Regions from separate parts of the Homo sapiens genome. Here region 1 is linked to region 2. A link means that fine-mapping ties the variant in region 2 to the expression of a gene that starts in the linked region. Tissue or cell type: whole blood. Region 2 holds a variant in brackets; the other region holds the start of a gene. All regions are shown on one strand. Distances are from middle to middle.

Region 1 (7,989 bases), 130 kb after region 2:
AGCATAAGAGTCATGCACAGAGGTCACCTCGAAATGATGCAAATTATATTAGCTTCTAAACAATTTTACACTGAATTGAGTTCGGTACATCATGGGTTTTTTTGTTTGTCTGAGACAAAGTCTCGCTCTGTCACCCAGGCTGGTAAATAGTGGTTTAAATACTTGTTCTTCTTAAGACTACAGGTTCAGATGCCAGCATAGATCATTTACATTTGCCTACAAAGACTGGTAAGCTATCGCATGCCACACAGCTTAGTGTAACAGGTTGAGATCCAGTCTACAAAAAGTGATACTTATTTTTAAAGTAAAAACATAAGGCTTTTAATCAAACAAATTCATAGTTAGTTGTTCTCTAAGCCATCTTGGTATTCCAGGCACAGTCATATCTGGAGAGACAACTGCTAAATAGCCAGAGCCCTGAAATGTTCACCCTACTCAATGCCTGGTTTTCTTTTCTCCCTTTACCTGATAATGAGCCTGGGCTTGCTGTGCAGAGTTCAAGGTGACATTGCAGAGTTTGCAGTACAGGGGCTTACATAGCTCCTCCAGGGCACAGTCTTGCTCCCCTCCCTTCGATAACTCTTCTTCCCCTGCAAGAGGCAAGGAAGCCTCCTGCCCAAAAGGCTTCTGTGGTGGAAGCTGCAAGGTTCCTGTAGACCTGGTGGCCACTGACATAGGAGGCGAGGGTGAGGGCTGCTTAGGTGGAGGAAGCACGGCGTGTTGCAAGAGGATCATTGGGTAGGGAAGCCTGGGGCATAATCCAGTGGGTGATGAGAAGCAAGGTCTTCAAATCTGAATCAACAGCAAAAAAACAGAAAAAAAAACTCACTTGAAAATCAGACTTCAGCAAGATAACATGTAAATGACAACATAATCTGACCCTTTCTTCTACTTCTCCAAACCCATCTTTGGGACTTCTTTCCTTTGGCCTCATTTAGCAGACTTCCCCTGCCTGTTAATTCATGTTAACACGGTGCTCTTCCACTGAGAATGGCTTTATAGATTTGGCTTTATTTTGCTTGGCACAGTTCCAACTGCTATCCCTTTGGCCCGTGAACATTAACAGCATTGCATCCACGGCTAAATCTAAAAGTCACATGGCTGAAATGGACATCAAATGTCACCTAGTCCAGACCCCTTCCCTCAGGCACACTTACACTTAAACACTCTTAATGATAATCATGCACAGACAAAAACACCACGAGCTGTCCAGGTGTGGTGGCTCACGCCTGTAATCCCAGCATTTTGGGAGGCCAAGGTGGGCAGATCACCTGAGGTCAGGAGTTCGAGACCAGCCTGTTCAAGACAACATGGTGAAACCCCGTCTCTACTAAAAATACAAAAATTAGCCAGGTGTGGTGGCGAGTGCCTGTAATCCCAGCTACTCAGGAGGCTGAGGCAGGAGAATCGCTTGAACCGGGGAGGCAGAGGTGGTCGTGAGCCGAGATCGTGCCATTGCACTCCAGCCTGGGTGACAGAGCAAGACTGTGACTCAAAAAAAAAAAAGACCACCAGCTAAAAATCTTAGCAAACATATCTTCCAACCAACCAATATCAAAAAGAGTGTATAAAAGAATATCATCTTGCAGAATTCTTAAAGCACTTATAGAACTAGCTAAAATTTCAGGGAACTCTAGGAGTAGCCTAAAGTATGACAGAAATAAATAAAATATGTTCCTTCTGATCAACTAGCAATATTTAAGTAGTTGAGCAAATGTATAGCAGAGGTGGCAAACAGCCTGTGGGCCACATACAGCCACAGATGTGCTGTTTGGAATATACAGTTTTGTTTTCATTTTTTTAAGTCGAATTAGTTGTTAGCATTTAAAAATCAAGAGATTCATGGCTTCTCTTGAAAAAGGATGATCTGGCATCACTTGGCCCACATTCCTATATGGGACGCAATTAGCTAGTTAGTGCTCAGAGGCACTGTGCCCTCTAGCGAGGCCTGCCTTCTCTGGGACACCTCAGTCCCCACTCAGCTGCTGCCTGTACTTGTTACTTGCCTGTTCTCTGTGAGCTCTTGAGTTTACAGCCCTGCCTCATACAGCCTTAGATTATATTCATCAGCCCCTGTAAAACCCAAATTTTTCCTCCTTCTCTAGGTAAATTACCTACACAAAATAAGGTATCAAGGAAATGTCCAATGGAGTAATGGATCACACCACCATAAGCCACAGTATAATTCCAGTTCCTCAATCTTGAGGCTATTTCCCTCCTCCTTCTTAACAAATAACTGATAGTCTCTATTATAATTCCCTCAGAAAAGACCCAAAATGTTCCTCTCCCTCTTCAATCTTTATCCATAATGTCTCCTGCCTCCCCCCCAGATGGCGCCGTCTAACCCTGAGTGTCTCAAAATGAACCACAGTACACCCTTTGAGTTCCCAAGATTCTAATTAACCCAAATTAGAATCCTTATTTCAAAATCCACAATTCCCTCCACTCTCTCAATACAGTATTATTAAAACCTCTTCTCTTGGTCAATAGAATATGGCTATTTTAAGCTGCTGAAATTTTCCATCTGCAATGGAAATGTGTACATTATGGCAATAATAGAATTACTAAAATGAATCAAGTAAATTTTGAAAAGTTAAAGTCTATTTTACCATATTTGATAACTACACAGCACCTGAAAATCAAGTAACAACTTTCAGACGAAATTTGGGGTGGGGAGGCAACAAAGGAAATCAGCGTGATGGGAAAATAATGTAGTTAAGGACAAAGTGCATAAGTATTAGTCATAGAATTTAACAATACTTCTCATTAATCACAAAATTTAGAAAAATGATAATATTATTTAATTTTTAAGCAGAAGTGTACTGCCCATATCTCTGGGAACATAAAAGAAAAGCAATATAGAGTTTTAACATTTAAAAAGTCAGGTTCTCTGTAATGGTATTATTTCTCTTAATTGAATCAAGCAAAGATAGTCCAGAAAGCAAAGACAGATATGGTCATTTTAGAAAACGGAACTAAGTAGACAAAGAACAGCTTTTAAAAAGTTTAACTACCTAATAATAATAATTCATAATGTTGAAAAGCTACTGATGTCAAATTGCCACAAACATTCTGCTAGTTCATTAGTGAAAAGGTGGGGGGGGGTGTCAAAACCTCTGGATAAAGGAAATCAGCAATATAAACAGAAAATCAAATGCTACCAATTGCCTAGGCATGTCTGGACTTGTTTTATGAAAGCTCACTTTCACTTGAGGAAATTCTAGCATGTGTCTCCCCCAGTGTTATCTACAGGTTTCCCTCAAAATAAAGATCCTTCTCAAAGAACAGAGGCACAAAAGGCCTCCTACCAGAGGTGACAGTTACCTGATTTAAAGAAAAAATTCTTGCCAAACACAGATTTACCCATTATCACATTTGATCTTTACAATTTTTAAAGAGTAGCTTGATATCCCAAATTTATTTCTTGTTATATTTAACAATCAACACAATGTCGACTCCTCAAAAAAATCTATGTATGACAATTGCATCAAATATTAGTACATTTGCAAACAAAAATTAGTATAAAATATAAATCTTAAAATGAATAAAACCAAGTCTTCAGTGAATGCATGAATGATGGAATACAGAGACCCAAAACATGCAACTCAGATCTGTTCAACTGTTGCATTGGTTTAAAAGGGACTAATTTGAAGACTGGCATAAATATTCTTCAAATCTTAAAAACCAGTCACTTTGATGCTTGCGATGGCATAAATGAAGGATTTATGCTGGTTAATGTCCTGGTTTGGAAAGGAGCTAAGACGACATTAAAGAAAATCAAAGCTTCACAAGGTACCCTGTTTAAAGAAAATTAATTGTCATAGCATACTTAGTTTTAATGATTGGACTGGGGCCTACTCTTCACATACTGTGTTAAAGACAATCTCTTGTCTCATTTGGAGAAATCTACAGAGGAAAGAGAATAGAATAAAGGAACAGGTTAGGAGCACCTCAGCAAACTAGGTAAGTCTGTAATTGGGAATTCTGGAAATGAGGGAAAGGCAGCGAGCATTACTCAGAGGTCATCAGAACGCAGCAAGAAGGAATGAGAGGGAGAAAAGTTAAAAAAAATAATAATAATAATCACTTGAGGCAAGGTGTATCCTATAAAGAAGGCTCAAAAGAACGCAGAAAACTGGGGAAGAGGCCTTGGTGAATTGGCGAATGTTTTTCAGTCTCCGCTGTGACGGTTCCTAATCCTAGAGAACTGTTTACAGATTTGAATCAAAGCTACAGACAGTTCAGCGTCGCCCACATCCACCTTACATTCCTAAGATGTGCATGCATACACACGAACCCACACACGCACCTCAACCCGGTATGGATGCCATCACGAAGGATGGAATCCCCCGACTCCCACGGGGCGGGGGCAACTGAGAGGGCCAAGGCAGCTGCACGCACAGATGATCCACCTGGTCCACGTGAAATGCCTGAAACAAGCAAACTGATAAATAGAAGCAGCGCAAGCCCTGTCACGTGGAGGGCAGATGGAAAGAGCATCGGAAAGGAACCGCTAGTCCCCGGCGCTCCAGGGGCTCGTCCTGAAAGCTCCGCGGCTCCCAATCGCCCGCACTTACCGGAACCCCCGGGACGCGCCGGCAGTCTCCGCGCCGCGTCCGCCCGGGACGCCCGCGACGCCCGCCCTGCGCGCCCGGCTCGGCCCAGCTCGACCCAGCCTCTTCTCGGAGCAACTTTCTCCGCCGGCCGCCGCCGAGCCCCCTCCGCAGCCGAAGGCTGACTGTCAAAAGTCAGTCCAACCCGACCCACAGGGAAACAGCTGCAGGAAGTGACTGCGGAACCGGGAGGCGGTGGAGGAGGAGACTGAGGGCGCCGGCTCGGCGTCGCCACTGCGCATGTGCTTGGCGGAGCAGGCCCGGCAGCGGTGGCAGCGGTAGCAGTGGCGGCTCCCGCATCCCCGGCGGGCGGCGCGTGGGTCAGGTGCCCTGGCCGCGAGCGCAGGGGCGCGGGGTTAGGCCGGCGTGGGGAACAAAGGCACGAGTGAGAGGCGGGAGGGTCCCGCCGCCAATCTCAGCAGACAGCCCCGAAGAGCAGTTCAGCAGATGCCCTGGAAAGTTAATCCTTGGTAGAAGCCTGGGCAGAGCTTTTGCAACTTTCATCTCCAGTCATTGGGATCCAAACATTGTTCATTCTGTTCCTCCCTTAGCCTGCTGGTTGGCGGTTAAGGCGGCTGAGTGGATCCTTTAAACTGCTGCAACAGAACCTTTAAACTGCTGCTCTCCCCACTTCCGCCCCAGGATGGAGGAAGAAGAGCGTGGCTGCCTGCCCAGTATCGGCCTCCCTCACACAAAACGCCCCCACCCACCCACACACACACCTTCCCTCCCCTACACGAAAGTGAGCAGGAGATAGAGGAGACTTTCTCCTGACCCCCAGAGGCTCACCTGCAAGACAGGAAGGACCAGGAAAAGAGTGGCCAACGCTAGGATGTCACATCCTTCATAACCAACCTGGACATCTTCAATGTTAACACTGAGTGATGAGCTGAGGAAATTCCGGCTCTAAACTTATAGCGTAAATTAACTCGTATGAAGATCTGCTGGGGTATTATTTTTGTGTGTGGCAAACGATAACAAATATACTACTTTAAGAGTACAGGCCGGGCGCGGTGGCTCACGCCTGTAATCCCAACACTTTGGGAGGCCGAGGCGGGTGGATCACGGGGTCAGGAGATCGAGACCATCCTGGCTAACACGGTGAAACCCAATCTCTACTAAAAATACAAAAATATTAGCCAGGCGTGGTGGTGGGCGCCTGTAGTCCCAGCTACTCGGGAGGCTGAGGCAGGAGAATGGCGTGAACCCGGGAGGCGGAGCTTGCAGTGAGCCGAGATCGCGCCGCTGCACTCCAGCCTGGGTGACAGAGCGAGACTCCGTCTCAAAAAAAAAAAAAAAAAAAGTACAGTTCAGTGGCATTAAGTACATTTGCATTATTGTGTGGTTATTTTTTAAAACACGAATTAAAATGCCAAGGAGATCTAAGTATAGTAAGATGTGCCCTATTAGTAGGGAAACAACTGCAGGAAATCAAGGCTGTTTCTTTGGCTGAAAAATGCACCAATCCAATACCAACAACAACAAACCATAAAAGACTTCATAAGTACAATGAATATGAAGTACAAACATATACACACAGTGTACACCAGCCATTTGGGGAGAGTAATCCATCACCTGAATTGTTTTTCCAGCTGTATAGGTACATTTACTTTATGTGTCACTATTTTAAAGGGCTATATTGTTTCTAAAATAATAAATGCTGCTAAAATCCACTCTCCAGCCCCTTTTCTATATGGTCTTTAGCCAGTCTTAGAACTTCACAGTCCACACTCCTTATCTAGGACCACAAGTAGGCCTTGCGGAGCCTTTCCGATCTGACCTTCCACCAGTCTCCCCTCATCATTTCACTCACACCCCCATCCATGCCCCTTCATTTCCTGCCTCTGTAATTTAGCTCTGTCTGCATCTTGAATACAAAATGCTTTCTCTCCCCTCCCCTTGAATTGTCAAATCCTACCTGTCCTTCCAGGCCTCTTCTTTCATGAGGTCCCACAGCACTTTTCTCCGCACACCTTGATGACACACTATTTGTTGTCCCACATTATAATTACTTAAGAGATATTTCCTCTGCCCTGTAAATACCTTGAGTCCAGGAAGGATAAATGTCTTGGAGTTTTCAAGTTTTATGTTTGATAGTTTGATGTGTTCTTGTCCATCAGGATGAAAATCTGAACAATTCCATGTTCTCTGCTCACATACTCTTCTCAGACAGCTAGGGCATTTCCTTCCCTGCCTCGGGGAGAAAGAAAAGGCAAATCTGATGCTTGTGTAATAGATATTTGAAGCTCATGGCAGTGACAGTAGTCTCATAAGTCAGAGTTTGTAGTTTAGAATTGGCTGGACTTCATGAGTTTCAGCACATGAGGTGAAAGGAAAAAAAGCCACAAACAATATATTCATCACTTTTGCGGTTGAAAAAAAAAAAAATGGCTGATGGCCACAAAGGTTTATTTCTTATTTGTATTACATGCTGGGTCAGCTGAGGTTCTGCTCCATGGGTCTCCTCAATCCAGTGCCCAAGCTGAAGAAGCTGCCCCTATGTAGAACTTGGCAATTCTCAAGGGAGATGGGAAGAGCCAGAAAGCTGTTAGAAACTTGTGAAGCCTCTTAAAGCTGCTTCTCTAATGTCTCATGACATGTCTACTCAAATCCCATTGGCCAAGGTCTTTCATATGGCCAAACCCCAAGTAAGTGGAGAAGTCTACTTCTTTCATAGGCAAATCACATGGCAATGGGCATGGATTGTAATTTTTTTGGAGTGGGGGTTGTGTGGTTAATTGTAAACAATAATGCAATCTGCCACAAAGATGGGGGAACCAATTTTCTCTCCCCAGAGATATTGGTGTATGTCCCAAAGAAAGGCCTATAAATCCCCACCCACCCACCAGCCACACACACCCAGTCGTTGGGATTCCTTTGAAAGAAACTGTGGAGCTAGAAATAATACAATTCCCACATGTGTGAAGATCTAGAGATTGGGGGCATCTGAGCTCTATTCCCAGTGGGGATCAGAAAAGCAATCAAGGTCTAGGGTTTTGCCTCAATAAGTCAAAAGAGAGTAGGATGTTAGCCTGAACTGTTTCAGCCAGAGGAATGCCCCTAAACTTTTTTTTTTTTTTTTTTTAGTATTTATGGCATTAGAGACTATTCAAGGGAGCTGACAGCTGTAGGGGGCTGATGAGCCTACAGGTCGGAAAGGGGAAGGATAGAACTGAATGAACAGAGCACTGATCTGATAGCAGAGAAAAAATAGACATCGCCTATTGAGGTCAAAGCCAAGGCGTGTTTGCACTGATGTCTACTTCCTCTTGCCACCTGCCTCCCCACTTCACCCAACCCCACCCCAAATTTTAGGGTTATCCTCAGAAAAATAAGGGGAAGCAGATCATTTTGAAGTGAATAGATATTAGCCAGA
Region 2 (7,989 bases):
TTTTCCAACTTGGTTCCATTCTCCCTATCACTTTCAGGTACACCAATCAGACGTAGATTTGGTCTTTTCACATAGTCCCAAATTTCTTGGAGGATTTGTTCATTTCTTTTTATTCTTTTTTCTCTAAACTTCCCTTCTCGCTTCATTTCATTCATTTCATCTTCCATTGCTGATACCCTTTCTTCCAGTTGATCGCATCGGCTCCTGAGGCTTCTGCATTCTTCACGTAGTTCTCGAGCCTTGGTTTTCAGCTCCATCAGCTCCTTTAAGCACTTCTCTGTATTGGTTATTCTAGTTATACATTCTTCTAAACTTTTTTCAAGTTTTCAACTTCTTTGCCTTTGGTTTGAATGTCCTCCCATAGCTCGGAGTAATTTGATCGTCTGAAGCCTTCTTCTTTCAACTCGTCAAAGTCATTCTCTGTCCAGCTTTGTTCCATTGCTGGTGAGGAACTGCGTTCCTTTGGAGGAGGAGATGTGCTCTGCTTTCTAGAGTTTCCAGTTTTTCTGCTCTGTTTTTTCCCCATCTTTGTGGTTTTATCTACTTTTGGTCTTTGATGATGGTGATGTACAGATGGGTTTTTGGTGTGGATGTCCTTTCTGTTTGTTAGTTTTCCTTCTAACAGACAGGACCCTCAGCTGCAGGTCTGTTGGAGTACCCCGCCGTGTGAAGTGTCAGTCTGCCCCTGCTGGGGGGTGCCTCCCAGTTAGGCTGCTCGGGGGTCAGGGGTCAGGGACCCACTTGAGGAGGCAGTCTGCCCATTCTCAGATCTCCAGCTGCGTGCTGGGAGAACCACTGCTCTCTTCAAAGCTGTCAGACAGGGACATTTAAGTCTGCAGAGGTTACTGCTGTCTTTTTGTTTGTCTGTGCCCTGCCCCCAGAGGTGGAGCCTACAGAGGCAGGCAGGCCTCCTTGAGCTGTGGTGGGCTCCACCCAGTTCGAGCTTCCTGGCTGCTTTGTTTACCTAAGCAAGCCTGGGCAATGGCAGGCGCAAGAGTGGACATTCTTATTTTGTCCCTGATCTAAGAGGAAAACCTTCCAACTTTTTACCATTCAGAATAATATTAGCTATGGGTTTGTCATATACGGCCTTTTTTGTTTTGAGGTACATTCCTTCTATCCTAATTTGTTGACAGTTTTTATCATAAAGAGATGTTGAATTATGCCAAATGCTTTTTCTGCCTCCATTATGATGATCAAATGGTTTCTGTTCTTCATTCTCTTAATACAGCAGATCACATTTATTGATTTGCATATGTTGAACCATTCCTGCATCTCAGAGATAAATCTCACTTGATCGTGGTGAATGATTGTTTCAAAATGTTGTTAAATTCAGTTTGCTAATATTTTTTAAAGATCTTTGCATCTATGTTCATGAAGGATAATTTTCTTTTCTTGTTGTGTACTTGTCTACCTTTGGTATCAGAGTAATTCTGGCCTTGTAAAATGAACTTGCAAGTAGTCCCTCTACTTTGCTTTTTTGGAAGGGTTTCAGAAGAATTAGTATTAGGTCCTCTTTAAAAGTTTGATACGGCCTGGCACGGTGGCTCACACCTGTAATCCCAACACTTTGGGAGGCCGAGGCAGGTGGATCACGAGGTGAGGAGTTCAAGACCAGCCTGGCCAAGGTGGTGAAACCCCGTCTCTACTAAAAATACAAAAATTAGCCAGGTGTGGTGGCACATGCCTGTAATCCCAACTACTCAGGAGGCTGAGGCAAAGAATACTTAAACCCAGGAGGCAGAGATTCCAGTGAGACGGGATCGTGCTACTGCACTCCAGCCTGGGTGACAGAGTGAGACTCCATCTCAAAAAAAAAAAAAAAGCGTGGTAGAATTCAGCAATGAAGCCACCCAGTCCTGAGTTTTTCTTTGATGGTAGACTTTTTACTACTGATTCAATATTCTTACACAGTATTGGTCTCTTCAGATTTTATATTTTTTCGTGATTTAGTTTTGGTAGGTTGTATGTGTCTAAGAATTCATTCATGTCTTCTAGGTTATCCAATTGACTGACATGTAATTGTTCCAGAATTGCATAATGACATTAGCTGAGGTGAAGAATCTGTTTTCCAGCAATCAGGTCTGCCTACAGTTTTCATCCTAAGAATGGTATCTGCTTATTCAGACAGTACTCAATAAAAATAATGATGAGTATATAAGAGTATGTTGAAAATTACTGTTTTAGGAATGCTTACATCAGACTCTGACATTCAAATGTGACGGTAGATAGATCTGACAGAGAGAGGAGATATAAATCCATTTCCGTAAAATCTTCAGGTTATTTAACTTCTTGTTGCAGAACTGGAATTCCCAAGGTGATCAAGGTTTTTTATCTCTGCTCAAATCTCCAGTGTATGTGGGCAGATGTTATGACATCATTAGGTTGACTGGCTGTCAAATAAAGAAAAAATAAAACAGATCTAAACTATATCTGTTAACACCCCCAAAGCTATCTCAGAAAAGATATTTTGAGTTAAGTTTTCTTTATTTCAAGCTCTTCTCATCTGTTAAGAGTTTTGTCAAAAAGTAATTTAATAAAAGGCAGAGTCAAAATATGCTGTCAACATTTTTATTTTAAAAACTGACACAAAGGCCAGAATTTAATAACTAACATTCAAATAATGGGAGGATGGGAGTAAACAGGAGATGGATGACTTCAAAGTTTTATGAATTTCAAGATGATAAAAATCCATTGGAACAGTGCTGTCATAGGGATATTCCACCAGGAGATGTTATAAATAAAGTCTGATTTTTAGAAATATCTCATCCTTTGAATATATTAGATTCTCAATAAAAGTTTGCTGAAAAACTGAAAGTTGTGTTTTATTCAGAAAGAGATTAGCTATACTACTATAATAAATACACCCTAAAATCTTAGAGGTTAAGGCACTAAAAGTGTATTTCTTTCTCAAATCACAGTTTAATGTGTTTGGGTAGCTATTCTGGAAAGCTCTCATTCAAGTGGTGACTCAGGGATCTAGGATTCTTTCATATTGCAATTCATCATTTGAAACATGTAGCCTTCAAGAGGCCGGGGAATCAAACCCAGGGATATATGGACAGACCTAGTAGTGGTATATAGCATTCCATCCATACTCTTCTGGTTAGAACTCAGCCACATGTTTTGACCTGGGAAATATACTCTTCCTTTGTGCCCAGGAAGATAAGATGGATTTGTGTGCATGCCATATGCTGATGTGTTTACATGTTAACTAGTTTGATGATGAGCTTCCTACAACATATTATAATACCACCTTGTTTTCTTAAAGACAACAATAAACATTATACTCTCTTTTCTTCATGCCTCAAGTTCATAATTACAAGGATCACTCACTGTTCTGAGCTAATATACGGACCTGGAAGTTATGTTCCTTCTTTCCTTTCTCAGTACTCCCACTGTTAGTCAACCACATTCACACTTAGTAAAGACTCAAATGTTCAGCCTTTGCTTTTATCCCCTCCACTATCACCCAGTTCAGGTCTTCACCAACATTCTCCTGGAAGTTATCTCTGCCTTCACTCTTACCTCATCAATAGCTAATCCATCCAAAACACCACTTCCATATGAATCTTCCTATAACATGCCTCCACCACCACTGAAACAATAAACTTTTATTTTGGTAAAGTATAGTATTATTATTATTTCCCTTTATCTTTCCAATTTTTACCTCGGCAATAAAGTTGGGTGCAAACGCCTTAGCCTCCATAAACTGAGACTACCTAACTTTCAAATTTCCTTTAATATTCCATTTCAGCCACCTGTGTTGCATTTCCTTCTCCCTGACATTGGTCATCTAATTCTTCCTGTCTGAGATGCCCTCAGCATTTTCTGTGACTGTCTATATTCTAAATATCCTTCAACATTCTGTTCTAGTCTCACTTTCTGTATTAGTTAAGTAACATAAGCTCTATGACAGAAAAACACCAAAATCTCAATGGTTTATGTATTGGTCCATTCTCGCACTGCTATAAAGAAGTAACTGAGACTGGGTAATTTATAAAGAAAAGAGGTTTAATTGGCTCATGGTTTCACAAGCTGTACAGGAAGCATGATGCTGGCATCTGCTTGGCTTCCTGGGGGGCCTCAGGAAACTTAACCATGGTGGAAGGTAAAGGGGAAGCAGGCACGTCTTACATGTCAGGAGCAGGACCAAGTGAGAGATGGGGGAGGTGCCACACACTTTTAAACAACTAGATCTCTCAAGCATTTACTATCACTAGAGCAGCACATGGGGGAAATCTGGCCCCATGATCCAGTCACCTTCCACCAGGTCCCACCTCCAACATTGGGGATTACAATTCGCCATGAGATTTGGGTGGGGACACAGATCCAAACTGTATCTGTTTAACACAATTGAAGTTTATTTCTTGCTCTCATAAAGTCTAAACTGGGTATTCC[T/C]GTTAGTCAGGTGGCTCTCCTCCAACTGGTGATTCAGGAACCCAGGCACCCCGGCTCTTCCATCTGATGGCTCTGCTATCTTTAACCCTTGGCTTCCAATGTCACTGCTGCACAAAGAGAAAGTGTATGGAGGAACATGCATGAGAGGACCTCATGAATTAGGCCTGGAAATGGCACAGGGCATGGCTAATATTCCATTAGCTAGAACTCATTCACGTGGCCACATCTAAGATGGCAAGGGAAGTTGTGGGCCCAGGGATAAGATGAAATAGTTTTGATAAAAAGCTATCAGTATCTGTTGTACTTGCTTGTGATTCCTTTCCACACCAATCCAACTTTCCATAATTCCTCCTTCCTCTGAACTTTTCTAGTACTTTCCAATATCATATAGGCTGTAGTAACTTGGGTATTTTTTTTGACACATTTTCTTTCTACGTCAACCAAACTTTAGGGCAGAATCTGTGCTAAATATTTCTTAGTATCTCCCGCAATTACAACAGCGCCCAGCACACCCTAAGAGTTCAATAAATATTAACTGATGAGAAAGGTAATAATGTCCATACAAGTATGCAGAGTCAGTTCTCCATACACAAAATGGCCCCACACTGCTATGAAGTTCTTGGTCCACACTTTTGGTTTTTCTTTCTCTTGCCTTATCATCAGAATTTAGCTACTGCTTTGCATTGCCTTAAGCATGTTTGCTGCTTCTATTCAGCCACCCTTACTCTACTTATAATTTACTGTCTGTAATTACTATACAGGGTTTTTGAATCTTAACAATTGGATTCTTTCTACAAATAAAATCGCCCATGGAACTCCAATAAAGGGAACAAACAACAGCAGAACTGTTGAGATGGTGGCAGGGAGGGGCACATTCTTACTTAGCAGCTGCCTGGCCCCAAAGAGATACTCAGGAAACATGTCTCCCTTCCTATCCTATCCTTGTCTCAGTATTACTGTGTGTTCATTGATAAGCACTTCAATAGGCAAACTCATCTGAGAGTTCTTATTAATGGCACGAAACCTATTAATTTTGTCAGCAGTTCAACCTTACGCTATCCCAATAAGATAAGAAAGGAAAGAGTGAGGAAGAGGCAACAGGAGAGGAAAAGAGTTTTGAAAGCTTTTTGGATAAGAAAGTTGATAGTTGTCACAAAGATTTCCCAAACTTTTCAATGACATTCCATTTTTTCCCATGAAAATTTTCCATCTCGAGTAGCTCACGAAGCCTCTTCTTCATTAAGTGCCACTTAAGGATGAAATATATGTATACAAATATATATATTCATCTTACATACATCATATATATTCATCATATATAATCTGCTTCAAAATGTCTTTATGAAGAACAAATGTGACTAGTCATAAATGTTCATTCAAACAAGAAGCACAAACATCTCTTTCTAAAATGAATCTGGAATGGAGTCTGATATGGTTTGGCTCTGTGTCCGCACCCAAATCTCATATTGAATTGTACTCCCATAATTCCCATGTGTTGTGAGAGGGACCCAGTGGGAGATAATTTGAATCATGGGGGTGGTTTCCTCCATACTGTTCTCATGGTAGTGAATAAGTCCCACAAGATCTGATGGGTACCAAGGGTTTCCACTTTTGCTTCCTCATTTTCTCTTGCTGCCACCATGTAAGAAGTGCCTTTCACCTCCCACCATAATTCTGAGGCCTCCCCAGCCATGTGGAACTGTTGAGTCCAATTAAATCTCTTTTTCTTCCCAGTCTCAGGTATGTCTTTATCAGCAGCAAGAAAACAGACTAATATAGAGTCATATATCTTTTAAACAAAAAAATTAATAATTTACATGCTAAAAGGTATAAGAGTTAGTTCAATTATTTCCAGTCGTTAAAACCTATGGGCTCAGTGAAAAGTTCCATGTGCCAACATCAATATTATTGTATATGTTAAAGTTTATAATGGTTGTAATTTTGAATTAATTCCTGTTCCCCTGGGGCACCATTTTATTGTCACCTTTGATTAAAGTCACTTCAATTAAGTGTTAACTGAATATAGTTTGAAACAAAGTAGAACAAAGTTTCTTTAAGCCACACTGACCCCTAGAGACAGAGGGATTACAAAAATGTTCCAGTAAAACCAAAATCCACTTTCACAAAATTAGTGCAAATATAATAAAAGAATTTATTTTTTGGCATAAGTATGGACTATCCTTTCCTCTCCATGCTATACTCCACTGACTAAGCCTACTGCATTTCATGTTATTAAAATTTCACTGCAAAGATAAGAAGAAAGAGGCAAAGAGAAATAATTTAAAGCTAAACAGAAAAATGTATGGAATGGAAAAGTCTTTAAACTTTGCATTCAGAAATCTGAGTTCTGATTCTATTTCTCCCACATATAACCTATGTAACCTTGGGCAAGCCACCTTCCTCCCTAAGGCTTCACTTTCCCCATCAGTTAAATAAGGATTTGACCCAAATTCTCTGATTCTCTATGCTAAATGCAAACTAAGAAATTCTAACAATTTATTTTCTAATCTGAAAAAAAACCTAAATCACCATTTTTAGAAAACATCCTCTATTATTGACTCAATACAATCATGCATCACTTAACAAAGGGGATATGCTCTGAGAAATATGAACATAATATGTACTTACACAAACCTAGATGGGGAAGCCTACTACATACCTAGGATATATGGTACAACCTATTACTCCTAAGCTACAAATCTATACAGCAAGTTACTATACTGAATACTCTAGGCAATTGTAACACAATGGTAAGAATTTGTGTATATAACATATCTAAATATAAGAAAGGTACAGTAAAAATACAGCATAAAAGATAAAAAGTGGTACACCTGTATAGAGCACTTACTGTGAATGGAGTTTGCAGGACTGGAAGCTGCTCTGGGTGAGTCAGTGAGTGAGTGAGTGTTGAGTGAATGTGAAAGCCTAGGACATTACTGTACACTACTGTAGACTTTATAAACACTGTACACTTAGACTACACTAAATTTATTTTCTTAATTTTATAATAAACCAATCTTAGCTTTCTATAACTTTTATTTTTTTAATTTTTTGACTCTTTTATATAACACAGCTTAAAACATGAACATATTGTACAGCTATACAAAAATATCTCATGTCCTCATATCCTTATTCTGTAAGTCATCTTCTATATTTAAATTGTTTATTTTTTTTTATGTTTCAAACTTTTCTTGTTAAAAACTAAGACATAAACACACACATTAGCCTAGGCCTACACAGGTTCAGGATTATCACTATCGCTGTCTTCCACCGCCATGTCTTTTCCCACTGAAAGGTCTTCAGGGGCAATAACACACATGAAGCTGTCATCTCCTATGATAACAATGCCTTTTTCTGGAATACCTCCTAAAGGACCTGCCTAAGGCTGTTGTACACCTAACTTTTTTTACACGTAGAGGAAGTGCATTCTAAAATAGTGGCCAGGCACGGTGATTGATGCCTGTAATCCCAACACTTTGGGATGCTAAAATAGGATGATTGCATGAGCCCAGGAGCTGGAGATCAGCCTGGCCAACATAGCAAGACCCCATCTCCACAAAAATTAAAAAATTAGCCAGGCAGTAGGAT

What was found. PIP is the estimated chance that this variant, and not a neighbour inherited with it, causes the effect.
Region 1: ZMAT3 starts here. The variant in region 2 is fine-mapped to the expression of ZMAT3 in whole blood (INTERVAL, PIP above 0.99).

What each region holds. Positions count from the first base shown.
Region 1 is chr3:179,067,018-179,075,006 of GRCh38, forward strand. It overlaps ZMAT3 (zinc finger matrin-type 3), which reads right to left and starts at 4,792. Exons shown (of 6, transcript NM_022470.4): 1 at 4,578-4,792; 2 at 466-792. The coding sequence starts at 735. RefSeq lists silencers at 4,519-4,668, 4,809-5,218.
Region 2 is chr3:178,941,458-178,949,446 of GRCh38, forward strand. It overlaps a transcript of LOC124906307 not described here. Among named protein-coding and RNA genes, the nearest start is that of KCNMB2-AS1, 85 kb to the left of the region's middle. The variant T/C (reference allele first, on the strand shown) is at 4,402.